3 separate regions of the Homo sapiens genome follow, and regions 1 and 2 are each linked to region 3. The links come from fine-mapping of genetic effects on gene expression. A gene starts in region 3. Each other region holds a variant in brackets. All regions are shown on one strand. Distances are from middle to middle.

Region 1 (10,708 bases), 95 kb before region 3:
GAGAAAACTATCTATAATTATGTTTGCAAAGGCATAATTTGTGCCCTGTGAGATACAAAAATACAATATATACAAATACATAGACTAAATAGGTTTCATTTTAGGCTGTGGCTGGTCAATTTCAGCCAGAAGAGCAATATTATACATGCATTCCATTCCCCCATACAGACTCTCTTCCTGTCCTGGGTGTTATCAAGTGCTAGGCATGCAAGTGTTAGGCCTAGACAGGTCCTGTGTTTATCTGTCATTTTGGAAATTGGATATTTTGTTAGAAGAAGAACTGACACTAATGAAAATATAGGTTGCCATTCACTACTCAACACCACATGCAGGTTAATTAATAGAACACACAGCCTGGAAGAAGCCAGCAATTTTCCATTTAGCTTTTTCAGATATAGAACTAGATAGCATCATCAAATAACACACATACGCTCAGGCAATTTATAACTTTATGGTTAAAGGGGGAAAAAATCACTGCTTCAAAATCCTTCACAATCCACTTATCCTAGAGTCATAGATTGTTGGGTCCTAAGATTCCTGTAAAGGTTATTACATTAATTTTCTATTACTATAAATAAAGACCAGAATCAATTTATAGCAAGTAGCAATCAGGTGAGTTTTTTTTTTTTTTTCCTTCTTTTTTGCTTCTCTGGAATGTGAACTCCATTTCATGGTTATAACTTGTAAGCAAAAAAAAATTTTTTTCAGGGAAAAGCAAAATAAATCAGAAAACTATATGGTACATGGTTCTTACCTCCTGTAGCAACTTATCTAATTTGTGCTGTAATTCAAGGAAGTATCGTGAGGTGATGAGGCCCTGGTGGGATTTATCCAAGCAATCTCGAGCCAGTTCAATAATCTGGTGGTGAGTGAAACTAAGCACTCCATCTGCTAAGGGTAGAACGTTGTCAGGAGAGTAGCTGGTGATAATTTCCTTTAGACGTTCTTCCATCTGAGCTGTAGCCTATATAGAGAAGACACACATACACAGATGTAATACGAGGAAACACACATGTAAACAATTCAATCATCACATTTTTACAGCATTTTCAGAGACCTCCACAAGTTGTTAAATGGGATTCTAGAAATCAAATTTAAAAGAAGCCTCACTTCTGATAAAATAATGGTACATACATGTCATCAGACATTTGTCTGAACCCATTGATTATACAACACAAAGGCTGAATGAACCCTAATGCATGTTGGGGGCATTCATGCATAGCCTTCCCAGGTACATGGGAAATCTCTGTACCATCTGCTCAATTTTTTTGTGAAGCTAAAACTGTTCTTAAAAAGTTGCTATAAAAAAGCAGCAGCCTCAGCATGTGAAATACAGATCTGAGGGTACATAAGTGAAATCAACATTTCAGAATGATAATCTCCCTTTTCTGTGTTCTATCAAATGTAAAATGGTCTCTGTAAGCTTCTTCAAGTAACTCAGATTGTATCTGTGAATTGTTACGCTTTCATTTAAGATCTTGGGCTCTTTCAGATGGACTGTCCAAAATATCAAACATTTCTTTATGTTTTTGTACTTAAACATCAGGTTGTTGCTAGAGTTCCACAACCTAAGCTAAAAATGTATCTTTCGGGCTAGGTTTTAATGTGCCAGGAGCACACATCTTATATCATCTTCTTTTGCCACAAAGCTACATCCTATGTAAAAGTCCCAGGGGACTCCCTTGGTAAAATAAATCTAAAATTTCCTTTCCAACTTTCATTTCATTCTCTCTGGTCACCCACTGCCTAATCCATATTCCTTGCTTACATTAATTATATATGCAGGGAGACTCCCTCTCCTTCCTCCCTCCTCCTCCCCTCTAATATCCTAACCTGCATTAACTAGGTTAACAGTCAGTATCTGTTTCCCTGGTGAGCAAGTGACATGTGATAAATAGCTAAAACAGCTTTAATCAATGACATCAATGTTGGGTTAGTTGCAAATAATAAGTACTCTACTCTTGATTTATGAAACCAAAGATTTTCATTTGTTCTCCTGTTTAGGGCAACACAGGCTGTGGGGGTGGATCGGAAAAACGTGGAGAGGGGCCTTCTCCCAAATGTGCAGAAATGCTTTGGTGGGAAAGACGTGGAAACAAGGTGAGCTAATGGGACCATCTGAGAGCAGGTCCTTGCAGCCAGGGGCTTGGCAGCAGCCCTTCACAATTGCTCTCTCAATTCATGTTCCTTTACCAGTCTAACTGGAGAACACGACAACTGTGCCTTCTCTTCTAAATTAATAGGTTTAGAAATACAATGTCTAAAGAGATAGGAAATCACAGAAAAGTAATGTGGAAAAACAACAACAACAGCAACTCTCATGACACACCAATCTACAGGCTTCTAACGGAGAAAAACAGTCTCTACTTAACAATGTGGCAGCAGGCCCAGAATATGGGTACAGAGTGCACAGTCTAGAGGCCTTTCAAAGTAGACCCTCCCTACGGCACCTCACCAGGCCCACCCCGTGTGTGGTGCACAAGTGGCAGGTTCACTTTAGAGCCAGCTCAGCACACGTAGAGCACAGCTAGTTCTCAGCAGTTGTTAGCTTAACATTTTTTTTTAGTTATTTTCTCTTTCTAAGAAGACTATGGAGCTGTTTTATGCAAATCATTACTAGATTGGACCCTTACTTCCTATAACAAAACAACCTTACAGACTCTAAACCTATGGTGCCTGTTCGTTTAGATGCTAGGCATCTTCAATTCAATTCATTACCTTTGGGAACCTTTCTTTGTAGACATGGTTCATCATAATTATTTCATGGTCACAGCAGGCGGGAGAACGTCCAGGGCTGCAAGCAAAGCAAATTACCCTTTTAAACTTGCCACAGCATGAAATGAAAATAAGCTTTTTATTTATAAACAGTCAGTTGCATCAAAAGTACTATGCAACCTTTGTAAGAAAAGTATATCAGATAATAAACTACAAAATCAGTCATTAGTACACATGCACACATACATTCCCATAAACACAAAGATACTCTGAATAGGACTGAAAAAGAAAGCTCAAGAAGTGGAATGCCACAAAATCATCATAGTTACAATACAATACTAGTTCAGAAAATGTTTGTAAATTGAAATTATATTCTGCATGTAGTATGAGCTTGCATAAGATCTGGAAAACAATTAACAAACTGCAAAATAAAATAAAATAGGATAGCTACAAAGAGCAACATCTAGGACACATTTAACAGTATAATTTCACACTTTTATCATACACCTGCGGTCTGCCACACATCACTGAAGAAGTCTGAAAGTCTTCCATGGCACAGGTGTCATAATTGAGATCCATTTTCTAGCCTAGCAAATATTTATCTAGGATGCTGAGGTAGGCATTATGTATTATATGAAACAGAGGCATACAACTATTGTGCATTCTTCTTTACTCTTTCAATAGTAGGTTTATCTTCCTTCCTAGTGATATATAGTTGTGCAACTTCGGTGTGTTTATATTCCTAAGTGGATACAGCTTATACTACGCACCTTAGGAATTCCTTTAATAAAACAAAAAATGGCACCAATGTAGTAAAACATGGTGCCTGTAGATGAAATAGTAAAACCAGCTGTTAATTCCATATCTCAGAATAATCTAACATGTCTCACAATTATCCAGTGTGGCTATATTTAGTATTAGTTTATGAGACTAAGTAAAGACAAAAAGTACAAAGGGAAATTGCTTCTCATTAAACTTTGATATTCAACTGACCGCCTAATAAATAAGCTATTTTTTAATATAATAAAACCTTAATATATCAAAGTGCACTAATTCTATAGCATAAAGATCTCATACTGCAGCGGATAAGTGATGCCCTATCCTGATCCCTCCTTCAAAGAAGGACCTGTTGCCCGGCTTCTGGGAGTGCTATCCACAGAAACCTTCAGCTGCCAGTCCCTGCAGGGATGGCATCAGCTGCAAGGAGTCATCTCGCCTGAGGCTGAGTCTTTCCCAGGGTGCCACATCCAGTGAGGGACCCAGTGACTGAGGTAGGGATATAAAAGAAGTCGCATTTGGCCCAGGGGAGCAACTCTGCTGAGTCCTGTCGTTCCCGAGCTCTCCATGGAGTCGGCTAAGGCTGCTGGACTTCTCCCTCTGTCCAATCCTGCCTCTCCCTTCCCTCCCACAGGTGCTAATTTCGAAAGCACTCCCTAAGAAACATGCTGAACAAGAAGCTCTGTTTTAGATTCTGCTTCCTGAGGAAACAAACTCACAGTAAAACTGGCCCTACCCAGTGTTAGGTGGACTACATTTGGCATCCACAAACTTCAGGTGACACAAACTCCTAAAAATGTGTTCACAGTCTTAGAGAAAAGTAAGACTTACGATGGGAAGAAAGAACAAAGATATTTTGTAATATGGAATCTGGAATTTTAAAAAATCCTCCTATTCTTGTTGTCCTTCTATTTCCACGAAGCTGTTGCCTCTTAACATAACAACATTAACTGCTTTTGCACTGCCTTGAAATTTCCAGTGGCTAGATGTTTTCATAGGTAGTCCCAAGACCATCGTGATTACTACTGCTGCAATCAGCAAATTGTGAGAACTGAAAAGGAAACTTATAAGATGCCTTTCAATGGTAATTAACAATATTATGTGTACATGGAAACATCACACTATATTTGTAATAGTTTGCAAGTCAGTTAACACACATATGACCTAAAGGACCGAAGTGTTCACTCAAAATGTTTGAAAATAGAGAATCCAACTAAGTAATGGTTTTCAGCCAGGCCCACACACCTCAGACTTCGGGAACGGGGGCGCATCGGCGTGTTCCTGCATCTGTTCTCAGTGGCGATGCTTTCGGTGGTACAGAAATGTTTTGATAAGAAGTGTAACTCGTCTGGTGTTGGTTGGTATGGTAACTGATGCAACTTCTCCTGGGAGGAACAGGATGACTGAAAAAAACCAAAGTGAGGTCACATAACTACCTCAGAAAGAAACTCTTCAAATGAACAGGAGAGATCGATGAGTTAAACTTGGACAATACCACCATTTTTATTGTTTCTTTTTCATGTTAAAGTTATAAGAACGACTGCCTAAATGTATAACTTGATGTTCTCTCTCAGAGTTCAAAATGCTTTCCATATTTTGCCTCATTTGTTTATAATTTCCCAAAAGATAGTTTTCTCTCTGGAGAAAACCCAGGCTCTGAAAATGGATCGGAACCAGTCAAAGCCAAAGCAAGAAAGCGACCACTGGAGTGACATTAGGGAGCACTGTATCACAGATTAGTTCTCAACTGAACATGGCACCCCCGAGTTTACTGCTGCTCAAAATCAAATGCGGACTTTTAGGTAAATAACATGAAATAAATGGTATGATATGAGATCGTCAATAAGGCAATGAAACCTCTCTTTACAATGCATCAGTGTGTGGCATGAGTAAAACGGGAGGGATTAAAGAAGATCCTTTTCCCAATAAAGCCACTGTCTTAAAATCTGGAATTGAATTTTCTTTCTTCCTTTTCTTTGGAGGGAGTAGGGGGCTGAGATTATAACTTAAAATAAAAAAAAAAAACCTTCAAGTGGTGGTGAATTTTTTGTTCCATGCCTGTAGATTTGCTTTTTGAAAATCGTCATTCAACATTTGGAACAAGGAAAGACAGGA[A/C]AGATGAACAGCTAAATAACCCTGCTTTTAATCAATCTGAAACATTTAACTAAAAAGCAAAGAAACTAATTGTTTTCATTTTCAGTCAGAGGTAAACTCCTTAAGTAATTCTAATAAAAGAGACTCAGAAATTTTTTAGTAAATGGAAACATGGTTAGAATAAGCGTATTTTGAAAGATACTACTTATTTTAAAATGTCAGTTCTAGTAAGCATTTTTTTTAAAAATCATTATATTAAGAGTATCCTTCATAAATACTGAAACATTGCAATGCAGCAAAACTAGAAATTAATGCCTAAAGCTTAAAAATTATTCCTATAACTTGAAATTATAAAACATCTTACTAAGTACATATTGAGACAAAGAGGAATTTTTATAATGTAATGAGATTATTTTACAAGCAATAAAAAAATGAGAGCACTACTAGACTTATGAGATAAATCAAAGCTGTATTCAGTAAGTATAGTCATGGCCTTAAACACTTCTCACTAAGAAAAAAGAAATAAAACACATGAACTAAATCAAGTCAAGAAATCAAGAAAAAAATAAAATAAAATCAATGCAAGCAGGAGATAAGCAGTGGTGATAAGAGGAAAGATAAGGAAATTAGCAAATAGACAAACAGAATTAAGAATCTATAGATATGTTTCAAAGGTAAATCAATGTCCACAATCCTGTATCCAAGATTTCAAAACCCACAAACTCAGAAGTTTGTTCCTAAGTTTACAGTAATCTCTTTTGGTGGCAAAGCACCAACTGAACTGATGGGAAGCTGTTTAAAATATTTATTTAATCTACTTAGTATGAATGTTGATTCAAACTGCTGCAGAAATATTAATATATTTGATTATGAGCAGCTGGCCCCACTGTTGCTGGTCTGTTATGTACAGAACAGGGATGTTGCCTTTCTAAAAGTGAAAATTCCAAAACACACCAGGCTCAAGATACCATGCAACTGTACTTGCACAGGAACAGTATCTATTGACTTCAGAGAAGGGTCCAAAGAATGAAGATTTACACAAAAAATTATGCTGCTAGTTCTTCAGGCAATTAGAGTTCCAAAACCATGTTCTGAGTCATGATATCATTCAGTAAGCATTTAGTCTCTCCAGGTAACCATTTTGCAAAGGATAGTATTCATATGCACATACAAGTTTCTACTTTTTATTAAATCATATCATTTGATAGACATACTTCATATTTTTATGAGTATTTATATTCTTATTTCTGTACTTTCAGCAGAAAATAATTTATCTGGTAAGAAACATACGGGAGAATGTCTTCCTACTGATACAATTCTGTAGTACTTATTTCAAAATTAAGAATTATCTGAATATCACATTGGAAAAGGTCCAAAAATTAATTTTAACTGCAAACTGTGATGTTTCAAGAAACCACAATACTGAATATTCTCTGGGATGACTGATTTACTTCATCTGGCTAAATCTTTCAAATTTCCGAATATAGCATTTTTAACATTTAGCAATTTTGCAGTTTCCATAATAGCCAAAGGATACAGATATTATAATGTTTACATTTCAGTCTGGCACTCAGACAACAGCTGAAATTATCTGTAAAGTTTAAACTATATTTTCAAAATGCTTGCAATTTTATTCGTATATATTCTACATTTTGATTTTTTAAACAGTTAAAGTAAATTTCTGATTGGCTAAATGACTAACAGTTAACCCAGGGAAATAAGAATCTAAGAGTGATTCAGCTTAGCTTTAGAAAAGAAAAACCTGCAACTACTAAGAAGTTTTACACAGTTTTTGCCCTAATATTTAAAGAATAGAAACACAAAGAAACTGAGAAAAATAGAGAAGTAGCTTTCCTAGTTTTCGCTCATCACTTTTATCAACAATCAATAAGGAGAAAAAAATAATTGAACTTTCACACTACAGCACCTGCAGTCCGTCATCTAAATAGTTCCTTCTCTCTATTGGCAAAAGGAGTAATTCTGGAAGCTAAAATTTCATTTTGGAGGAAAAAATAGGAATATTGAGCCTAATAATTATATGATACTAACGTCTTCAATAAAATAAACACTTCAGAGAAGAGCTGTTAGAAACACAAAGTATGTGTGTATGACTAAAAATGGTCTTGGGGGTGTCTTCCGTAGGCACATACAGAATTTAGAGACAGCAACGATTTCATTTTGACTGACGACCAGGTCAGCTTTATTAATTACAAGGTTTATCTGAAAAAATGCCATGTAAATTCCTTTAAAAGAGCCAAGATGCTGGGTTCTAAAACTGCTTACCGTATTCTGACTGAGAAAACAAGGGAACAGTAAACAGTCACTCAGTTAAACAGTCTCTCTGTGCCTCAGATTTCTGGCCCATACAATGAAAAAAACAACAGCAATTACATGATAGGGGATGTTGCTAAGATTAAATGAGCCAATGCATTTTAAGAATTTAGACAAGCACCTGGCATATAACAAGTATTTATAAAACAAAATTATTTTAAACATTATTTGTACCAAACAGGGTCTGATTTTATGTAGCTCACCTTTTTTTATGGATTCACTTTTAAAAATGATGAATGACTTACTAAAGATGGAAAGAATACAAATCCTGAACTCACCCCTATTTTTCTTGCAAAAGAGAGACTTCTATGTCCAAGTTATAATAAAACTTGACTGAAGGCAATGCAAGGTGACAGAGTTGAAATAAAAAAAACAATTTGGAGTTAAAAGACACGTCTAAAATATTGGCCAATAACCACTGATAGTGACTGCCATAAGAATCAAGGATGACTTCACTATTATTTACTGACAATTTTATTCATTCATGCTATTCAGGATTTTTAAGCATCTTTTACTGATGCTGATATGCCTCTGAAACTACTTAAGGTTGTTAGGATGTTTCTAAAAATATGATCTAAATGGACAATAGACTCATATATCACAACAAAATGGAATAATGGATAGAAAAATAAATTACCTCTGCTCAATGAAATACCATAAAGAGATGGTAAAAATAACCCAACAGCTTTTAACAATTTGGTTTTAAAGGTACTCCAGAAAATCTACGTTATATTATTATACTTGGAATTCTGGAAATACATCAGTATAAGGCAGAGGTGATACCAGTTAGAATTTATCTATTTAACTGTAGTTTCTTGTCATTCAAGTGTTATTAAGTGGCTAAACCTATGTGCTTAATGGAGTGCTGGGGGCTATCAAAAATACAATAGATGGATATCCCTAAACAATAAACCAGAGATTTTGACAAAATGAGGCTCTAGGTCCACATTCCTTGCTGGTGCAAAGAGAGCCAGATCACTCCATATATTGAACACCTGCAATCTACTAGGCCCTTCTAAATGACCACCTTGTTTCTATAGCCCTGCAGATACAGTTATCCCACATGATCACTAACATAAACTAAAAAAACATACATCTAACCTACTGAGTTGTTTCCAGTAATTGCTAGGTCTCTTGTTGAAATGTTATAGTTTGGGGCAAGAGTATCCATTTTCCTCTATCCTATTTTCATAATTCCACTATGTCTTTATTTATCTTAACCTTCTTCTAAGTTGTTTTAATTCTTTCTTAAAAGAAAGTTCTTACCTAGAAGGCACAGACAAATTAAGACTTGCCTTTTTTTTTTCTTTGAAGGAGAAAGAAAACAAAACAAAACAAACCTCTATCTAAGCCACATAGGAAGAAAGACCCAGTCTATCGAAGTTCAATGGCATTTTTAGCATAATGTCACTGGCATGGAACCAAAGCAATAAAACTAGATTGTGTTTTTCCCCCCGAACTACACCAAATGTTATTAAAATGAAAGCTTCCAGTTTCCTCCAAACTTGTGATCCTGGAACTTACTCAATTTATGCACTACAGTTTAAAAGCTTGCAGCGAAAGTATGTCCTTTTTATTTTTGTCAGGCCATCATTTGATGTGTCACTTATTCAGAGTGGCAGACATGCAGAATTTATCTTCTCCTCCCTACCAGGAAACACCCAGAGAAAACACTGCCTGTGTAATAGCTCTGTTGTTGTGAGGAAGAGAAAAAAAAAAAAAAAGTCAGGCACTTACAGAGACCGTAGAGCTGGGTGTGTTTGTCCCATAGCCAGAGGAAGGGAGAGAAGCCAACGACCAGCGGCGTCCATCAGTCCTATTGAGAAAGTGAGTTTAGCTTAGGCCAACACTGGCGTACTGTCACATGGGAACCCCAGGGAAACTAAGTATTTTTAGTCAAACAAATGACACAAACATAGTCTGTGAGGATGTGGAAATGTTCAGCAAGGGTCAGGGTAAACAAACATTATACAGTAGGTTGACTTTTATTTAAACTGAATCAATACAACCAAACAAGTAGAAAGGGAATGGGTTGATCCATATTATTGATGTCTCACTAATATACTTTGACAAAATGAATACCAGGGATAATTACAATGGTCAGACTCAGCAGATTCAAATGAATAAGAACAGAAAGGCAGGAGGAAAACACTCTCATCTGGAAGCTGATAACCAGAGCAAATGATCTTTGGAAGGGGCTAACTTCCAGCATGGCACAAGGGCCTGTGGGGACTTTCTTTGCATCCGAAACACTTTCTGCTTATTATTTTCAAGGAACAGTTATACTCATCATGCTTAGGGAAGAAGGGATCATTAGGCTCATGGCTGGCTCAGGCCTGAAGTGTCAAATAACTTTAGCATTAAGTAAGTAACTGACCTTATGCTTAGAATCTCTTAAGAGTTACTGCCTTCGGACATGACCTGGCTTGTTACAGCAAAGCCTCCTGCAGAGTCTTTGAGCATGCAGCCCAGCTCTGGCCAGTCAACAGTGGGGGCAGAGTGAAACCTTCTCCACCAGTGATAGAACTTAATGCAAAGAGTAAAGTTGTTTGCCTCAGCCTTAGAGGCAAAGCTGGCAGGAGCCATGAAAAGGGTGGTTTTATCTTCAAGTGATGATAGAATGGGTGGTTTCTCAGTTGGAGTTTGGCTGTGGATAAGGGTCATTACAAGGGTCTCAGATGAGTGAATGCAGCAGTAGAAACAATACTGCTGCAAAGGGAAGGGGACAACAGAAAGCAAATTTTCTGAAATCTCTGGCATTCCAGAGCTATTACTTTAAACGCAAGACTGT
Region 2 (10,708 bases), 22 kb after region 3:
AAAAGAGCAACTTTAATTAAACGCAACCACGTTGTAACTATTTCACACTTCCATGTCCTAACTATAGTCAGTGTAATCCTAACTACAGTCAGTGTAATCCACATAATAAATAGCTTTTTGTTTCCCTAAGTTTTTTAATGGATGGGGCTCATTAGTTTATATAATCATCCCTAAAACTAGGACAGCACTAGCACTGTCACTCTGCAGTAAAATATTAATCCTACCAAACCAAATATTTGACATGATCTGTACGGCTTGAAATATTTTCCTTAAACCATTAACTTCTCAGTGGTATAGGGAGACAAAATAAAGAGAAAGAAAAATACCACATTTTTTCAGTACAGTTTTGTTACATAAGGAACATTTTACAAAGGAAACTGGATTTTCTTTAGGAGTATTGAAATTAAACACCATACTTTAGGGACCATTTCTCAGTCTGTTACTAGAGAAGTTTCTCTGAACCTGCAGAGCACCTAAAAAAAAAAGTAGAAAAAAATTACAAAAAAAAGGGTATTATAATTATTTTTGAGCAGTTTATGTCCTAAGCCATTTCAGGCATCCAGGCCTCCAGCTCATCTGAAAACTTCTGATTTTCAAAACACATTGCACATGACTCATCAGCATACTCTATATGCTAGATACTGATGAAGGAGGGTTACACCAAATCAACTGTAAAAGTGTGACTCCTTTTTCGTCTGTAAAGTCACTTAAGAAAGCAAAAACATGTCACCTTCAAGACACAGAAGAGCTTCTGAAAACAAGGCTCTCGTTTCTTTCACATAAACTTTACACATACTTATATACATATTTGACTTAAAAAAAAACCTCAGCTAAAATATGCCCATTAGAAAAACATTTATTCTTTCAGGCTATTAAATATACAAGCATTGAGGAAGATTTGCTCTAGCACATGCAACACCATGAAGAATCTAGTAAGTTTATATAATCTTACACTTCTTTAAGATTTTGAGAGATAAGAGCATACACATGTACATGCATATTTGTTTGAAACAAAATATAGACACGTTTAGCTGGACGTGGTGGCTTATGCCTATAATCCTGGCTTCTCAGGTGGCTGAGGTGGGAGCATTGCTTGAGGCCAGGAGGTCAAGACCAGTCTGACCAACATAGCGAGACCCTATCTCTAAAAAATAAAAAATTAGCCAGGCATGGTGATGTGCACCTGTAGTCCCAGCTACTCAGGAAGTGGGAGGATCAACTGAACCCAGGAGCTTGAGGCTGCAGTGAGCTATGATCGTGTTACTGCCCTCCAGCCTGAGCAACAGAGTGAGACCCTGTCTCAAAATAAATAAATAAATAAATATATATATATATATATAAATTCATACATATATATTTTTAATATATATATGTCTATATGGAAAGACAGAGAGAAAGTACTGGAAAGGAAACAATATGAGCTTTGGATATGTTTTATTTAATGTGGTGGCAATTCATCCAAGGGGTGATGTTCTCCCAGCATTTGGACACACAGGGCTAAAAATAAACAGAGAAAAAGACAGAGTGATATGATGCACATTTACAGATTTTCTTTCTAAAATAAAGAGCAAGTATTTCTCTGTGTAACAACATATGGATCCATACTTTCTATAAAAGTCAAGTCCCGCTTGGGCTCAGTTTCCCTTTCCAGACTCTGCACTTAACACTTCTTCCTTGCCCTTCCCAGCTCTGTGCTCCCCAGGGACCTGCCCTGCACTCTGCTCCCACTGTGACCCTGCCCTCCCCAGCAAGGGATGCCTCGCTACCTCCTCCTCTCTTCCTCATAGACAACTTTTCAAACTTCTACATCCTGGTGAAATGGAATTAGACAGAATTAATCCTCTTTCCTCTGGTCTGTTATTATATTACAGCTGTTTTTGTCTGTTTTCCTTGAGGGAAGGTCATGGGTCACCCATCTTGGTATCCCAGCCTCTACCGTGGGATCATTATTGGCAATCAATATATGTTTACAGGATGAATGAGTAGTTCTACACACTGTGCTGTCTACATGTAGATGACTTGAGTCTTTTTTAGAAGTAGGTGAGATGCAAGGAGTCAATGAAGCTCAGGTTTCCCTTGTTGCTATACCACCTGCTGGAGTTTTCACTACTATGCTAAATACATTGCCATTTTATTTTTTCTAATTCAACGACATAGGAAGCAGCCCCACATATGAAAGTTATTTTTACCTTCTCTGCCTTTGTTTTGATTCCCTTTCCCACCCCATACACCCTTGTTCCACTTACCCCAAAACCTAATCTTTCCTCTAAGCCCAACCTCGTATCTTACCTACTTCAAAGTCTCTTTCAGCTATACAGACACACACAAGCAGGCTACAGGTTAAAGGAAAATAAATAGGTAGGTTATAAAATCATTCCAGGCCTACTGCTCAGATAAGGCAGGCACTAAAAATAAACCTGATTTGGTAACAAAGAAGGGAAAGGCATCAAAAAGGAAAGTTCTTCCGTACCTTTCAAAGATCCAGAACTCCAATTTGCCCAGCAGGAAAATCTAGGGCCCCTCAAGCTGCTGGCATGTTAAGGGCCTTTGTCTTTGATTGAACATTTCTTCCAGCACCTGCATTCTACCTTCTACTCACCTACCTCTCCTGAACCCTCCCCAAAATGGTCCTTTAATTCCATGGTCTGTGCACAGATGGGCAGAGACCTTTCAGCATCTGACATTTCATATCCTCCTAATGAAGGATCAGCATCACTCCACACAGAAGACCACTCTCCTGTGTGAAACTCCTCCTTCATTCCGCTTCTTTGAAATCACCTGGCTGGTCTTCCTCCTAATCTCTGGTCATGCCTCCTCCAGATCCTCAGCATGATATTTCAATCTGCAGTGTCTCAGGAATCTGTCCTGAAGCTACTTCTCACTAGTTGACTTCATCCAGTCCCCTGGCCCTGTACACCACCTACTTTCCTAAAAGTCCCAAATTTACTTCTCCAGACCTAACTTCTCCTTAGAATTCCAGATTCCACATGAGTATCATATAAAGATCTCAAATTCAACACAAACAAAACAAAACTTTTAATTTTCTTCCACGATCCTGCTCCCCGCCCTCTCAAGTCTTCCCCACCTGTGTAAACAGAACCGTGATCTTCTGTTCATCCAGTGGACAATCTAGGACCCATCCTTGTTTTTGCTGTTTCCCTCAATGCCCCCCGCCCCGCCCCCATCCTCCAACTCATCCCTTGGCAAGCCCTACACATTTCCCCCTCAGAACACAGCCTGAATCCATCTACTTCTCTCCAATTTCACTATTTACCCCTGTAGTCCAAGGCAACATTCTCTCTCATTCTAAGTTACTTTTTGAGCTCTATCCACCCTCTACACAGAAACCAGGGAAACTTTAAAGAGGCAAATCAGATTATGTTATTACCCTACTTTACAATATCAAGTGTTTTCCACGTATACCTATGTAACAAACCTGCACATTCTGCACTTATATCCCGGAACTTAAAACAAAAAAATAAAAATATCAAGTGCTTTCTTTCCATCCTGCTTAAAGGAAAGCCCAATCTCCTTACTCCAACTTATGAAGTCTTGTGGACCTGGCCCTGCCTCTCTGCCCACTCATCCACATGTGTGCCCTGTGCCCACACCACTCTTCTTTAGCTTGCTTCTGCCCTGGGTGGCCTCTTTACTTGGGAGGCTTTTGCTTTGGTTTTCTCATGGCTGTTGCCTTCTGGTCATTTAGTTCCAGCTCGCATGCCACTCCTTCAGGAAGAAAGAAGCCATGGACTCCCCTGTTTTACTTCTCTGCAGCTCACTTGTCACTCCTCCAGTGTTTTTCTGGTTTATGTTACATCCTCTTCTCCAAATCCCTGCACCCCACTGGGATATAAGCTCCATGAGAGCAGAGACTTTCTCTATCCTGTCTGTCACCGTATCCCTAAAGCCTAGAACACAGCCTGGCTGGTGGTAGCTTCTCAAAAACACTTGCTGAAATGAAGATTGTGTGAATGAATACAGTGCCTCCTCTGTGTTACCACTAAGCACTGTCAGCCAAAAGATTTTGAGAGGCATGGTCCAGGACTTCTTTCTCTGTCCTCCTCTGTTTGAATTGAACAATATTTCACTCTGTAAACCCCACTATCTGAAGTCATAGGTTACATCTTTGTATTCCTTCAGGAGCTCCACCTCTACTAAGGCTTTGTGTAAAGTCATAACACTGGCATAAAACCTCTGTTGACAAATCACAACATTACACAATGAAATAACCAAATCACAACATGACAAAAGCAAATACCTCTAATCCCTCCCCATTCCCCTCCCCCTCAGTTTTGTAGAAACTATTTACTAATCATTTCCCCTGTGCCTGGTACTTAATGATCCTCAAACATGGAAAGATTAATGTGAACTTCCCCAATATACAGATGAGGAAACTGGCACTTAGAGATACTACACAAATAGCCCCAAGTCCCTTAAAGCAAGTGTCATGCAAATGGTAGGTTAAAATATCTCAGAGGGAGATCCAGGCATACTAAAATAACCTTCTCTTCACCATTAAAGCAGAATCCCAAATTCTAGCTTCTATCAAAATCATGAAAATGATCAGCTCCAAAGTCACACATACAGATTCTGGAACAAAGCTAAGGGATGGCCGTCTGTCATCATGGAAAAGCAGCTCCTCAGAAATAAGTGACATTAACTATTGTCTCCAAAACTAAATCTATGCATTGGTTTGACCAGGGATCTCACCCACAAATGCTGCCTAGAGCAGAAACTGACTACTTCTGACATTTCATATCCTCCTAATGAAGAAGGTACATATAGGTATGATGAGCACAAGAAAAGCTCAGTGGCAGCAAAGGGTTGGAACTTGAAACCATGTATCTACCTCCACGAAATGAAGTCAGCTACATAGTCAAGGCAATATTCACCACTTAGCTTCCTAAATAAAAATCCTATATAAATGCTATGTGCTCAATAAAAGCTATAACTCTCCTGATGAATGGGGCAGCATTCCTTGATATCTATTTTAGTGTAATTCAGATTGATATGAAAACTAAATCCAGCTAGACAATGAACCCTGTATAGTTGTGTAAATTAATCACCAGTAAAAGGGCACCACGCTCCAACAGTGGTTGCAGGCTGGCAACCTCCTTCGAACAAATTGCAAATAGGCACTTTAATGAGGGAGAAAATATGAGGTAACATAACTGTAGTCAAATCAGTTCCTACAGGAGGGAAAGCACATTAACTGATGTGCTGATATCCGCCGCCAGAATATCAGCTAGGGAGAACAAAAGGCTGTCAAAGCAAGATGCTGTTACTAAGCCAAGGCAGCCCAGGGTATGGGCTTAAGCTGCAATATGACATTCTCAAGGGGAACATGAGTTTTGTTTCTAATGTCAGCTC[T/C]TTAAGTGCTTTTTATTGATGTCATTGTTTTAGGATGTGCTAGTTATCCCTGACTACCAACAGGAGATTCTAATAGATTGTCACGGTGGCTTCAGAAATACACACTTTAATAAATAAATATTCTTTTATGACATAATTTTCCTAGTTAGGCAGGTCATGGTGTCCAGACACATTCAGATCACTCGATATTACATCTCTAAGTGACCCTCCATGCCAAGTGAGACACTTTACCAAATTGTTATTAGAATCGACTTTAGTCTCCCTAAGTAAGGAAAAATGGAGAAGTTAAAAGAAAGCACACACTCTCAAACACAGGATGCTCATGTTTCAGAATGGGATAAGGCCGATGATGTAAAAGGAAAAAAGAACATGTCACCTACAGAAAGCTGAGATGTGCAAGGCCATTATACAGGAGCAGACTGGATCCTGGCCTTGCCACTTCCTAGTTTGTAAGACTCCGGACAAGTTAATCTCTCTCTGTAAATCCTGATTTCCTCATCTTTAAAATAAGAATAACATCATCAAACAACTCTACCTATTCTACCTATTCCCACAAAATTGAGGCCTCAAATCACTTTATGGCTGCCTCAAACACAATAAAAAATCATGGGATAAAGTTCAAATAAACAAAGAGTAAGAATGATCTCATTGGGTTTTTATGAGAATCAAGAGTTTGTGTGTGAGAAGTGTCCTCAAATTAGAGAGCACTTAACAATTACTGAGCCAACTGATCTTGGCAGAGACACTGAGTTTTTAATGCTCCTCCAGAAGCAATACTACTTTACAGCCCTCAGAATCAAAGTGGGTCAGAGCCTCTCTTGAAAAATGAAATCTCAAATTTAAATGGGGCAAAAATAAGCTTGGCCCTAGTCTGCATTCTCTGTCAAAAACCCAAATCTGTTTATAGGGCTATGAAATTCATGTTCTCCAAGAACAACAAACTAAGGATGTTTTTAGAAGCATCTGAAGCTTCTGGCCAATTTCTGACAAAATAAATTCAATGCAACTCTGCCAGTTTCTGAACTCAATTTCCATTGGCAAATCCCTGGCGCAGGTGCTGCCATCCCCACCCCCATCCTTCCATCACCGCAGTAAATACTGCTGATTGATTATACAGTTTTCAGCCACTAAGTCCCAGACGGAGCCTCAGAATCTTTCTCAACACAAAGTTCTGAGTGGATGTGGTCAGAAAGTATCTATTATTAGCCATTCCTAAAGTAGAGAAACGAACAATTGACTGCATAGTCCAATGTCTTTCCAAAACAAATTTCTATTTTGAGCGGATAATTTCCAATAAATAAGAACATTATTAAATAGCTGTATTCATCAAATCAATATATTCAGCTATTTCAGATAACATTTTGCAAAAAAAATCCCACTTGGAGGCTTAAAAATAAGTGGTGCCACTCAAAGTCACATGTTTTACCATATTATGAGGTAAATGGAAAAGGCACAGGGTTACAAACTTATGACTTTAAAATTTCTATGCCCAAACGATCTCTCCCATACTCCACTGTGCAGAGCTTTGGAGTCTCAGTCCAGCACTATTTTTTCTTTAGCATAGTCTTTATTCTTTCATGAGAAAAAAAAATGTCCTGATCAGCTAACATCCCTGCAGTTCACTTCCTCGGGTAAGAGGGGGTGACTTGTTACTGCCAGTCCTCAGGCTCTTTGCCAACGTCAGAAGCAGAAGGCTCTCTTCTTGACTGCCCCAGAATACCTACACTTTCTAGGCCCAGCCAGAGCATTTATTCTAAAACTGAAGATTCCTTGGAAATGATCGAAATTAGGTGGAGAAGAGTGATAACTGAAAGGCAAAGAGAGACACGCTACGTAAACATTATCTCTGAGTTCTGGCCCTAGATGAATTAGATCATTGCTGGAAAGCAATATTCTTGCAACAAACACAGAACTTACAACCTTCTTTGTTGAACCATACTAAAAAGGACTCGTTTAAAATATATTTTCACCCTTTCTGATGAATTGAGGTCATCAGCCATTTCACGAAAGATTTCTTGTAAAATTCCACGTGAGGACAAGGCATAGAGCTCCAAAACCACACATGGTTTCTTTAGTCAGTGGGATCAATCCTGTTTCCCTTTTAGCTTTGACTAGCAGAAACTTAGCTAAATTCAGACCTCAATTAGATTAGTTATCTTACTCAAGTGCCACATAAAAGTATCTTAGAGTTTGAGGTCTTGCTTATCCTTTTTAACTAATTTCATATATGTTTCTATTGTAAACTACCTTAAATCCTTTTCAAAGGAGGTGGGTATAAGTGATGAACACACAGCCAAGTGTGAGGCGTTGTCATGCATCTAGCATTGTGGCTGCAGCTGGCTCTACTCACCAGGCCATCCTTGACCCCTGGGGGACTTATCTCTGGCCAGATATGTACATCTCAGCCACCGCAAGAGACAGTAAATTTCATCTACTCCCCCAGCCCAGCTATTCAGAACTGATAAAACATTTCTTTATATCCAAAAAGAATTTTGCATCCAGCAAGTAGCTTGAAGTTAGGAAGGCATATATTCTTCCTCAGATAACTTCTACACACAAAAATCTTGCAATAATAGTGGTGCCTGAGGATTTTCCCTCGACAAATTAAAGATGACATCATTCAGAATTGTTCTGCAAAATTTGGTCAGATCCATAACAACTGTCTGTACTCGTATTAGGCAGACAGTTCTGAGTTAAATGTATTCTATACACATGTGAATTACACACTTAATGACTGTGAGCCACGGGGCTAGAAGAGCTCCAATAACCATTGTTTCTCACAAAGTTCAATGACATTTTCTAAAAATATATGTAGAGCACCTGCAAGGTGGACAAATTATTGCCTGAAATTTCTGGAGTGTGTCTGGAGTGTGAAAAGGACCTCAAAAGCAAGCTCATTTGGTCTCTTGACAGCCAGTTTGATGTATTAACGACATTCAATTCCAGTAGCCCAATCCTAGTAGTAGAAAGAAAAAACAAATGTGTCCCTGCCCCACAACCAAGGATCATTCTCTAGCTTCTGGGGCATCTCTAGCGGATCTAGAGGGTGAACCCAAATTGGACCTTAAGGCCATTCAGGTGTTTCTCCAAAGCAGAACACCAGGCTTACTCCCTAGTTAACTGAACTCAAGAAATCTCAGTTGCAGGTTGCAGCTGAACATGCTTCCCCAAACTAATGACTATTTTTTTTTCTTAGTCCAGACCTAAACCACAGGAACAAGGAGCAAGGTGGATTTTGCCGAGCATCTGCCCCCGCTACTCACAATTTTAAAGAGGACTCAGTGTCTCTGTTGACACCTCCTACACCTTCATCTACATTATATATGAAGTTCCGAACATTCTCCCTAGGGTGCATCTCCAACAGCAGGCTGGACCTTTCTACTTGGCTGCTGTGCCATCATTTTTAGGTTCGATATTACTAACCATAGCTAAAAGTGAAACTGTTATCTTCAAAATGGATTGTTATCCCTGCTTCTATCTGAGATATAGCAATTCTCCCAATCTGCGTAAAAAGCCTCCCATCCTTCAGCAGGTCCTGTCAACTCTTCTTTCACAATGCCTTCCATTCTTCCTTCCCCTTCTCAAGCCTGCCTTTCTTCAGCTCTTCATCATTCCTTTTCTGCACTTTCCTTCTACTCTATTCAGACCAAGTTTCTCCTATGCAGAAATCTTACTAAGCTACCATGTTATTCTATTTTGCTAGTTAAAAAACCTCCAGACATGTCCTACACCGAAAAAAGAAAGCTCAAGACTAGCAAGTGAAACACTATAGTCTATTTCCAATGTTCCTCTTCCACAAAAATCCCTTCTGTCCTCATGCTGACTTTATATTAGCTCTCAGGCAAGCTGGCTTACCTAGCATCCTTGAACATACATGTCTACATCATCCCTTTCACTCCTACCCTTCTGCTCATCCCCAGTGATCTTCTCTCCTCCTTTCCATGTACTTAGCCCCGAATCAAACTTCATAGTCCAGTTTAAATCCTGATCCTAAATTCTCATGGCCTCTGGTTGTACCACTCATGTAGCATTCATAGCTCTGTACATTTTTTCAGGTGTCTAACTTAACTAAATTGTTACTTAAAACTAAAAGAAGAACATCTTCTCTTCTTGGTATCCTTCCCACAGCATTAGTACAGCAACCTAACAAAAGTGGGTTATATTTGCTGATATGCCGTAGCTTACAAAATGTTTTAAGAAGACTTCCTAAAGACTGATTTTAAAACACAGAATAACTAGAATAGGAGCATTTTAGGTCTTTACTTCCTTTAGTAAACCCTACTCTCATTACTACAACTCACCCAACCTTGGATGTACTTAAAAAACTGTAAAATTCAGAAAGTGAAGGGGAGAATAGAGGAGTGCATTTTACTTTACTAGAAAGATTTCTGATTTTAGCTTTTAGTTCTGTGTTAAAGTGACCACAATGATTTCAAAGTATATCTTCTTTCATGTTCATTCACAGTCAAATTCATAAACTTGTGCATATAACAAAACAATGCCTCAAAATAAGCAATCAATATAAAAATTTATGTGTGTGATTTTACAGCAACAGTACCTTAGGCAGCTGATTTTACACTGAAAAAGAAAATCTACTTTGAAGCTTCAAAGAAGCAGAGAATAAAAATAAAAATGCCTTTGGAGACAGGATGATCACTGGGTTCTAGGTTCTGAGTTCGAATCCTGTGTAGTTGCCAGTATTTTCTAAGATGCCACTGGAATGCACAAACCTATACACAGAACTGACAAAACAATAAACTACATTTTATGCCAAAGCCTTTCGATTCTGTTTTCACAAAAAACTAACAGAATCAAATGACATTTCATTGATTTCTCTAACTGTAGTCATATATAATCTTTTTTCCTTTTGGAAAGAAACAACAGCTAATGTAAACCCAAGAGCAGAACTTGATGGGGACCATCAAGGTGAGGAACAGTGACTCATGCCCAAGAAGCTATTATGAGGGATTTATGGGTCTAAACACTGACAATAAACTGAATAAACAAGATCATGCATAGGGGCAGGAGGTTTGTTTTCTTTTCCCCCCAAATGTGTACAACTGCTGTTGTGATCAATAAAAAAATTAAATGCTCTGAGTTTGCAGTCATTTTCTGCTTTTTCTACTTTCTCAATCAAGAGATCATGTGGGGTGTTCTAAAAATGTCTGATAGCCGGGCGTGGTGGCTCACTCCTGTAATCCCAGCACTTTGGGAGACTGAGGCGGGTGGATCACCTGAGGTTGGGAGTTAAGAGACCTGCCTGACAAACATGGAGAAACACCGTCTCTACTAAAAACACAAAATTAGCCAGGCGTGGTGGCGCATGCCTGTAATCCCA
Region 3 (10,708 bases):
TCAAAAACCCCAGGGCCATCATGGAATATTTCTTCTTCTCTCAGAGTCAATGGCTCATCAACTTCTATCAACGTCATATCCTTCATATCTCTCAAAGGCACAATCTCACTTCATTCTTTATCTAGCCCTGCAAAATCTTTTAAACAGACTACCCCAAGAACTTATTAACTGGCTTGCAGGTCTCACCCCCACTCCCAGACCTAAACCCCAGTGTGGCTAGACATGTCTTCCCAGCACAGGATCAAAACCAAACTCCCTCATATGCCAAGCGCCTCAGCTCTCCTCCGCAGCTTCACCACCCACTACTCATCTTCATTTGTAATGACAGCAGTAATATTAACAGCTAAAATTTATTGAGAATTTTTACATGCCAGTCATTTCATTAAGCATTTTACACATATGAATGCATTTTAATCTTTACAACAATCCTATAAGATAAATACTTATCCCTATTTTATAGACGGAGCAAGTGAAGTCCAAAGTTAACATAACCAATCTCATACAGTCAAGATGTTAACCCAGGTAAATGGGCTTCAGAACGACCCTCTTAACCACTGTGCAGTACTGCCCCTTCCAACTCTCTGCTTCAGCAATACTAAGCCATGTCTAGTTCCTGGAACTCTGTGTTGCCAAGGTCACCAGGCCTTTGTACACACCATTTATCCTGCCCCTTGGAAAGGCTCTGTTCTTCACTTTCGTCAACAGCAAATATCTTTCAAAACCTTTTCTATGTGGTGTCTCTTCTGGTTCCCTGAGACCAAATTCTCTCTTACTCACTGAGCTTATATGTGAGCTCCTATGGCTTATATGTACCTTGTAAATACTTCTTGATTGTCCTGGTTTGCAATGATTCATTTACTTGTCTTCATTGAAAGCATGCCTACAGCTTTCAAAATTGGGTCACAGTGCCCAGGTACACAATAGGTGCTTAATAAATGTGGAGTTAATTGGGATTTGGGTAAAAGGGGTGAGTACAGGTTTACTAACACCTGGAATACCAGGGCAAGAGGGAAGAGGATTCTCTATAGTTCTCATAGTCATGACATATATTCATGAGCAAAACAAAGGAAAAACTCATCAAACACTACAGATGTATCTGAAGGGAAGATGCCGAATGCATAAAAAATTCAATACATCCTGACAACTACAGGATTTAGTTTAAGATCCCTGAAGGTACCTGCTGTTCATAGCAATTACTGAGTAATGTGAATTCTGCAAAAAACAACTACCAAAATAAAAACCCCAAAAACTTCTTTTTTGGTTCTCAGAAAAAGACATTTGGAAACTTGCTCAAAGTGATGAACTGAGTCACAAACTACCCATCGGCGTGGAAAATGGTTTTATTGATTTAGGCATCATCAAGGTTGAAAGATTATCATTAAGCAAAATGAAAACATGACAGATTTCTAAACATTAAGGTTAAAACACAAGCATCTTCTGGATTCTCAAGACTGCACTTCAGCAAAACTAAAGGCCCAACTCAAAACTTAGCAGCAACATTTAGAAATCAATTGTAGCCCTTTCCTTAAGGTGTGACAGAGAGCAGATATAATTAAAAGAGAAGCTTGATTCGTTTCCCCCAAAAGTTTTTCATCCAATGGGCAAAGAAAAGATGCTATAAACATAAGCAGTGACATGAATGCAGGCCAACTAATTTCCATTCTGAGTTGTGAGAGGATCCTCAATGAATGGAATAGCCACAGACCTATGAAACTGAAAATCTCTGAAACATGCAATCATTACTTCAGTCTAAAGCAACAAGTTTTCGTATAAAGTCTCTTCATTTATGCCTAGGTTTCTGTCCCTCAAAGCAGCAGGTGAATGGCTGTACTGAGACTACCTTGAGGAAATGAGGGGAAGGGAGAGGAGGACAAAGCCAGTTATATAGAAGGAACTATTTCCAATGGAACATGTAAGCTATACAGCAACAGAGTAGACAAAAGCCAGTGTGCATCCCAACAATCTCATGTCTGCCATGGTCAAGACAAAAGAGAATGAAGGGCATAATATACTGTCCTTGGGACGTAGCACAAGGGACAGAGTCTTTCAGTTCATCAGTACTGTGTCATCTTTGAGAATCTAGGCCTGAGAGTATGTCTGTAGGCTTCTTTCCTCAGGAACCCCAAGAGTTACAGGCACAAGTAGGGCTGTAGGTTTTAAGAAAAACCTTCAATATTTTTCTCTGAGAGTACAAACTAACAAACCAGCATCACATTGAACTATAAGGCAAACGTAATGTAGCAAACCAAAAGTTTCCATGATGACAATTTCTACCATAATAAAGGTTTAAGGTAAGAGTCTGAAACCATTCAAGCTCTCGTTTAAGTGTGACAAACATTCTATCCTTATGAGTTCTAAGATGCTCATTCATAGGCTCAAAGCTGAATTTTACTTTGATAGATGCAAGAAGCTGATATTAAAGAAAAAGCTAAGATAAAGTCCTCCAGATTACAATGTTAATCAGAACAAACAGATGGGATAAAATATTCAAAATGAACAATCTGTCACACAAGTCAGCAAGTGTGCAGGAGAGGAACTAAGTTTGGGAATGAGAGATATCTCAAGGGTTAAGGCATATCTGACTGATGATGACAGCAAGGTGTCCTCACCTGGACACTGGGGACACCCTTATCGAGGATGGCAAAACAGAACAACTTGCGAACAGAAAGGTCCTTTGGAAAGGAGAAAAACTACTCAGCCCGGTAAGGTACAGCATTAGACTTGGAAAAGGAAACAGGATTTAGAACAGTTAAGGGGCATCTCAAAAGTAGAAGTCACAATGTAAGCACATGTTTCATGTCCTTAGGGAAGGACATGGAGCCAGAATTGATCACTGTATAATAACAGGATGCAATAGCCACATACATTGCCCTGGAGATGAGGATACCTAGCCTTCTGAATCTACATAATAAATATAAAGCAATGCTAGCCCTTTGAGACAGACAATGACTCGATGGATGTAGAGATGATCTTTGGGATGTTTATTTCCAAACTGCAAAACCTGAAAATCTCCAGCAACAAACAGGCTGTCATAACCTTTACTCTTAAAAGGGGGAGAAGAAAATCCCCTTCCCTCTCTATTTTGCCAAATTGAAGATACGGTTTCATGACTTGGGGTGGAAACAGCCCACCCAATGCTCTCCCATTTTACTGGGAAGAATTCAGGTTTCCTTAGAATCTAGGCTCTCTGTCAGTGTGAGCTGTCTGAATTGGAGTGTTCAGGCTGGACAGGTACTGCCCTAAAGCCAGGCTCAGAGCAGCCTGAGAATCCTCCTGCATCTGACTCTCTCCAATAATACTATCAACAGGTAGGTAGGAAGAAGAAAGGCTCCAACTGCTCTACGGGTTCAGACACACACATACGATGCCAGAACAGACTTCTCTCCCTAAGAACTGGTTCCAGGTAAGAGTAGAGGCTGTACCGCAGCCAGGACTACACAACTCAGAAATATTTAAGGGATTCTGTCCAGCTGAAATGGTAAGAAATCATACGAATTATCACCATGTTGAGCAGTGGCCTAGTTCATGTGTAGCATGTATCTCTCTTCAACTTTATTAGTTGTCTTGGAGGTTTGGTGCATGGTTGACACAACTTGATGAGCAATACTACAAAATGAGCAATACTACAAGAGAGGGTCTCTGACCATATATGGCAGAACGAGAAAAACATAGTCACATTACTTAAAAGGTACAACTTCAGAATCCAACATAGTTTAGTGGTATCAACACTTCAAACTGCATCAAAAAGCAAATATGACTTTGAAACCTGCCAGATGTCTCTCTCATACACACAGGTGCACATGTGATTTGTGTGTGCACCCATGTATATAAACAGTGTATGTGAGTATTCCAGGATGTTTCTGAAATGTAAGAAACCATGAAAAACTTCAAAAGGAAAAACTAAGTTTTCTAAAGTATCACATATCCACATTTATACTACAAAAAGTTACAGGTATAACCAAAAAGAACGAACCATTTTCTTGGGTTCTTTGAACACTGAAGCATAGAGATTGTGAAGCTCCAAATCTGAGAGCCTGCATCCTGTTTATCTGACTGCAAAGTTGCTCTCATGCATGTTCACATGTACATGCAAGGCAAGTTTTGAAGGAAAACAAAGAATCAGTATTAACACAACTCAAAAGGTGTGCCCCTCTAAAAGTACAACAATCTTACTTTTCTGTGCTGGACACAAATGTGGTGAGAAATGCCTCCTTCAAAGTCATAGTCTCTCAACACAAGTGTCAGCAAACTCTTGGAACTGCCTGTCACTTGTGGCATGAGCTTCATCTTGACATTAAAATTCTTTTTCTTTCCCCATCTTTTCTATCAAATATACGTTACAAAATGAAAAGGACACTCCTGTATTAGTAATAAATGCCAGCAAACCATTGAAAAATCAAAATGACAAAGTTATGTAGATCTGCCTCTCCACAGATAGTATGAAATAGCTAACCTGGGCTATCCTTGCATCGTACATCTGCATCTTATAAAGGTCAAATATTTAATAGAGAGGAACATCTGAAGGGCTCAACGAAAAGTACCAGAAGCCTCAATGACTGGGTGAATGAAATGGATAAACATGATCAGGTCAAAGGGACAGACTTAGACAAAGTATCTCCTCCTCTTTCCCTTTTTCTCCCCCACCTCTCACAAGGAAATGTCTTATTATCCACATTTCAAAAGGAGAAAACCTATGAGAAGCACATTTATCAGGGTTACCCAGGAAACCACAAGGACGAAGAAATACCTGAAACAGTACCCCCTCCCCTAGCGGGGCATAAACTTTTCAAAGTGTCACCCAATACACAAAACCCCAGCTCCTGAGGGGCTCAGGCAGCTCCGCCTGTGGGCCCCTGGGAAGTGAAAGCATTCCCTCTCCAGGCAGAGATCCCCGCGTTTTTACCTTTGTGTTCGCCGAAGCCTGTTCCCACTCCTCAAATGAGGCAAAGTAAAGTTTGAGAGCACAGTCCAAAAATTGGGGTCAGACATATCCATTTCTTTCTCTCTTCAATTCACTGTGGGTTCAAGGCCATATGACTAAAATGGGGAGAGGTAAAAAAAAGGAAGAAAGACAAGGCCAAAAATAAAAAAAAAATCCCAATTATCTACTCACTCCCTCCAGAGAAAATGTGATGGGAACTGTGATCTCAAGAACAACTTGGAGCATGTCTGAGAAGTACCCGTCCCGTCCTAGCCTTTAATTAACACACAGCCTCCTCTCAAAGGTCCGGGAAACTGATTTCCTCTCGGGTCTGCCCTCTCCTAGTCAGGCTCGGCCAGCTATAAACAGTAATTACATGAGTTGAGCCGTGCGTTCTGCTCAAAGCGCTGTCTGTGGGATTCAGTCGGAGGTACTTTGTCATCTGTTTGGCAGATACCACTCGCCGCTTCTGCGAGGGGCGGGGGAGACGACTATTTTGAGGCTTTGGTTCCGGAGGCTGTTGCTTATCAGCAAAACCATTCACATCCGAACATGCCCAGTGCCGAGTTTCCTTTTGGTATCTACATACAAGGAAAAGAATTTGAATAGAAAAAGCTGCTCTTGCCCTCCCCTCCTGAAAAAAGCGGAAACTTAAAAGCACTTTTAAAAAATGGGCCTATTGGAGGACTTGAACCTGACACCTTTGTGGACCCTTCCAGGGTCCGGCTGGGAGGAGGCGGCAGGGCCTTGTCCCTGGACAGCTTGGTGGCCGCGCCCCCAGCTTTCCTGCATCCCCCACCCCCCACCAGCCCCGGCCGCGCCTGAGGAGCGGGGGCTCACGGGAAAGGGAGCAGGCGGCCGCGGCGCGACCCCAGCCGGTGCCGGGACAGCCCCGCAGCCTGGGCCGCCGCTCCCCCTCCCCGGAGCCCGGAATGGATCCGTCCCGGAAATAAATAAATAAACCCGCGGCTGCTCCGGGTGTGTGCTGCGCGCACCTGAGGCCGACCTGTGATTCACCGCGGGAGGGATGGCAGTGACAACGCTCCGGGGAAGTCCACAGTGACTCCTCCGCCAGGACGCCGCTGGTTGTATAGGAAAAGCACGCGGACGGGAAGCCACACTCACCGAAAACCTCAGTAAACTAAATTTATGAGTTTACATCTGTTCCATCAATGACCACGGTGCACACCTGTTTGGCTTCATGGCCGGCAACTACAGATCTAGGTAATGGTGAGCCCCGATGTGGAAAGACACTACCTGGCATTTATGTGGCAAATGCTACAAGTATTGCCCCTTCAAGTACGTTAGACCTTGAAAGGGCAGAATGAAGGGGGCTGAATGTTCTTGTTATTCATTTTGAAGAAAGGCATGGTATTTAAATATCTCCCCCTATCCATGAATGTTTGTATAAAGTACATAAAGAAAAAATATAATTTAAATTAGCTGCCTTAAGTCTGGTGTAATATGGCAAGAAATACTAAATCAAAAAAGTATATATTCAGCAAAAAATACATCTAAAAATGGCTTAGTCCATGCAGTAAATACCAGGAACAAACTCGCTTACAAAAATGGGAGGATAAAGAGAAGGAAGAGGGGGTGTAAGCTGACAAGGTAGGCGGGGTAAACAAAAAGAAGCCTGCTGTGGGATCTTCTTTATCTAATTCTTGTGGCCCACATTAATATTTTCACACCAAGGACTCCAAGAGTTTTGGATGATGTTTCATGTCCAAGGCTTTCGTATGCGTTATCTCCTCACATTCTTACAGAGCCTCCACAGATCCTTGCAACCCACAGAGGTAGACAAAGAAGGCATTATTTTCTCAATTTTACATTTGGGACTTTATCCCAAACATTCAGGGACACTAAATGACAAAACACACTTCAATAGATATTAATGAGCTTGGTCCAGCATTTTTGCCCCATGCTCTTCTTTTAAAAAATGTTTCTAAGTATTGCAAAAGATGTTTTGAAGGCTGACACAAAAGAGTGTCCCTGTGCTCCGGAGCAGTTTCTAGACCTCAGCACTGTTGACATAGGCTGGATAATTCTTTGTCTGAGGAGCTTTCTTGAGCATTGGAGGATGTTTAGCAACATTGCTGACCTCGACCTACTAGATGCCAGTGCTGACAATTAAAAATGTCTGAGGACATTGCCAAATGTCCCTTGGGAGGTAAAATCACCCCTGGTTGGGAACCACTGCTCCAGATAAAGGCTTCTCTGAGAGGGGTGATACAGAGCACTGGTTTAGAGCAAAAATTTTGGGTCTGAATTCTGGATACAACACTTACTATGACCTTAAATCTCTTCTCATTTTCCCCAGCTGCAATATGGGGTCCATAATAGGACCAACCTGTAAGAGGCTGATATACATAAATGAAGAGGAGATGGCATACATAAGCCCTTTCACGCAATGTCTACACACACACTGCGCATAAATGTAGGCAGTATACAGAAGCTAAGAGAATACTATGCTGACAGACATAAGACTGGAGCAGAGGACACCCCACAATGTGCTTCTTTCTACTCTCTAGAGTCTTCAACCAGGCTGCTGATCACACTGTGTATAATTGACTGTTTACTGCTGTCTTTCCAATTAGTCTGAGTTCCTCAAGGCTAAAGTCACATTTTACTGATCTTCATATTTTCAGAACCTGACAGCTCCTCAGTTTATATAGGCATTTAATATTAGTAAATCCTTTTTGAATGGATACTTCAGAAGCCCAAGTATCTCTTATTTCTCTTAAGATGCACTGAAACTATTAGTACTAGTAGATCTGTATTCTCAAAGAATACTGAATTTTTGAGAATCCCATGAAGACGGTAAATTCTGAAGACTTTCTCTTAGTGACTTATTTGTATCTATATCATGTAGCTGGAAAGATATCAGTGCTAACATTCCTCAGGTCTTTACATGGCTCTAAGAAATGTCACAATCAAACTCAAGGGGAATTCCCTTTGAGTCCCATGTCCCCTCCTCAAAGGCAAGCCCAGAGAATAACTTTTTGTGCTCACTTGTAGGTATCCAAGATCAAGAGGGACAATTACATATTATAAGCCGCACAGAGAAGAGTAATCAAGGTGGACATGAACTTGTGCTATATAAGTTATGGGTTGAAGAACTCTGTGGAAAGTAGAGAAGAAAAAATTTAGGGAACAAGCAGTAGTTGAATACAGCTATGTGAAACTATGAGAACTATGTGAAAGAGTGTTTGGATCCAAAGATGAAAGAGCTGACACAAGAGTGGATTTTCTGAGAGCTGTTTGAGCAGAGAAAACTTGAAGGAGATACAGTGAGTAGAACACAACCTGTAGGTGGTTTGAAGACCTGAGGACTCCAATACCTCCCAACTCTCATATTCTCTATAGTTTTTCTAGAAAAGCCCATGTATTGGGGCATAACCTATAAAGATGATAGCAACTAAAATGGATAAATCAATGACATAAAATGTTTATTTCTTCTCTTGATTAAATGACAGATACCCCAATCTGCAGGCATCATATGTTATGACTGCCTCCACTCTCTGCATTTTGAGAAAGCCTCTACAGAAATTCTCAAAGGAATGGGTAAAGACATGAGTATTTTTAACTACATATACTTTAAATTTATTTTTTTTTTTTGCATTTAAAAGGCTTGAGAGGATTTGGGTTGTATCCAAACTGAAAAAATAAAAATAGGTTAAGTACATGAGGAACCAGAATGAATTAATATAGTGAGCGAAAGTGGATTGTACATTCCCACACTCATGAAGATAAGAGTACAGATGACACTGAAGTGTGAGTTGTCTTCTAACCTGTTTGACTTGATTTGGTTACATATGATTCAGAAGGCAGAGCAGTCGGTAAACACAAGAATTAAAATTGTCAAAACTACTGACATTTTCCTACAAAATAATTATATGGGCAGAAACTATAGTTGCGACTGCAGTAAAACTCAACTGCAGAACAAAGAGGGAACTGAGATTACTGGAAATTCTTAAGACTATAGCTGGTCTAGGTCAATATAGAGATATTCAGCAGGATTTTCTATTGTGTAACAACTAAGCCTATACAACAATGGACAAGCTTTGTGGTTCAGAACTTTCATTCATTTAATCAGGATGACATTGTTAGCCATTGGTTTTGTAAGGTAAATGAAACTAAAAAACAAGCTTGTCATCCTACTGAAATGCAAGCTTAGGAAGAAATAAGTATTTAAGAAAGGGTCAAATCCTTCACTATTACCTCCCCTTCTACATACAAAAAATGCCAGGTCCTTTTTACTGACTTGAATTCTGTCTACTGCCCACCTGTTGACACAAGCCACCCCCCCCCTTTTTTTTTAGACAGAGTTTCACTCTTGTCGCCCAGGCTGGAGTGCAGTGGCGCGATCTTGGCTTACTGCAACCTCTGCCTCTCAGGTTCAAGCGATTCTCCTGCCTCAGCCTCCCAAGTAGCTGGGATTACAGGCAGTCGCCACCACACCCAACTAATTTTTTTGTATTTTTAGTAGGGACGGGGTTTCACCATGTTAGGCAGGCTGGTCTCGAACTCCTGACTGCAGGTAATCCACCCGCCTCAGCCTCCCAAAGTGCTTACAGGCGTGAGCCACCACAGCCGGCAACACATGCCCTTTAAGAAGGGGTTTTCTCCAGTCCACGTAGAACAATGTTAAAAGATAATATGCCTGGAGTCTTGTCTTGAACTTAGATTCTATGAAAAGACTTAGTTTTCTAGTGTGGATGTGAAGTCTGCAAAGCTGTCAGCTCCCTGTGCAGGACACTCGGGCCATGAGGCCATGCCCAATAAGACACTAAGTTGAGATTTCCTAAGCACTCTACCTGATCCTGGCCTATTCTAAGGATTTTGCCCTAAACTAACTTTGACATCTTCCCATCCCCATTTTCAGGGCACCTAGAAGTGACTAGTTCCCTAGGGCTGTCCACACCTTCAAGTCCACTTTGGTCACCTTCTAAATGTGGTCTTGAGAGTTTGAGGCTAGAACTGTGAACAGCAAACTGGCTGTCCTGAATGAGCAATCCTTGTAATCATTTTGTACATCCCAAGAAATAAAGTTTAATACTGGGACAGAAATGGGAAGAAAGTTACATCAATGAGGAACAGGTTGAAGAAAGCGTTTCTAATATTATTAAACAAATTTGCACTCACAATGCTAAAATATGGAGAAAGATAAAAAGATAGACAACAATTAACTTGTAGGGATAGGCCTGAATGCTGAAAACTAAGACAGATAATAGGCAAGGTTGTATCATCCTGGAAAATACCAAAAAATATTTTAAAATAATGCCACAAGGTAAGAGAGGTTCAGATTTTTAAAGTGAATGAGTAAAATGAAAGAAACATTATCCTGGAAGCAAAAAAGGAAAAGGAAAAAAAAAACCCAAAACAAAGGAAACAAAATAAGAATTCTATTTCCTGATGGGTTGAGCAAAGAACTACACAATCTCCGAAGGTAGTGTAAAGGATACAGTCTGAAGCAAGTAAAGGACATGCTAAAGACTGGCCAGAATGGGAAGAGAATGCAAGGTCTTTCTCAGGCATTCTCTGGATCCCAGGAGAATCAGAGACACGGAAAAGATTAGCAGATAACCTATAAGCTAACAAAATATAAGAGAAGACAGTGCATAGATATGGGAAATGAAGCACTTATCTCCCAAGGCAGTGAGTGACTCCTTGATATGTATGATTGATAATTAGAGTAGAATACATATATGGCACACAGCCCATAGGACTGGAGAAGGTGCAGAATCATGTCTTGCAAGCACACTCCAGCACTCTACCTTCTGACTT

The links. PIP is the estimated chance that this variant, and not a neighbour inherited with it, causes the effect. A credible set is the group of variants that fine-mapping cannot tell apart.
Region 1: its variant is the best candidate, but not a certain one, in a credible set for the expression of MAST4-AS1 in whole blood (INTERVAL, PIP 0.88).
Region 2: its variant is the best candidate, but not a certain one, in a credible set for the expression of MAST4-AS1 in skeletal muscle (GTEx, PIP 0.59).

The regions. Positions count from the first base shown.
Region 1 is chr5:67,094,622-67,105,329 of GRCh38, reverse strand. MAST4 (microtubule associated serine/threonine kinase family member 4) reads right to left here. Exons shown (of 29, transcript NM_001164664.2): 7 at 9,655-9,733; 8 at 4,738-4,895; 9 at 2,719-2,794; 10 at 755-964. Among named protein-coding and RNA genes, the nearest start is that of MAST4-AS1, 96 kb to the right of the region's middle. The variant A/C (reference allele first, on the strand shown) is at 5,608.
Region 2 is chr5:66,977,233-66,987,940 of GRCh38, reverse strand. The region is part of intron 4 of MAST4 (microtubule associated serine/threonine kinase family member 4); the gene reads right to left. Among named protein-coding and RNA genes, the nearest start is that of MAST4-AS1, 22 kb to the left of the region's middle. The variant T/C (reference allele first, on the strand shown) is at 5,371.
Region 3 is chr5:66,999,281-67,009,988 of GRCh38, reverse strand. MAST4-AS1 (MAST4 antisense RNA 1) reads left to right here and starts at 5,835. Exons shown (of 2, transcript NR_111908.1): 1 at 5,835-6,145; 2 at 7,940-8,371. All of the region lies in intron 4 of MAST4 (microtubule associated serine/threonine kinase family member 4), which reads right to left. RefSeq lists a silencer at 5,618-5,957.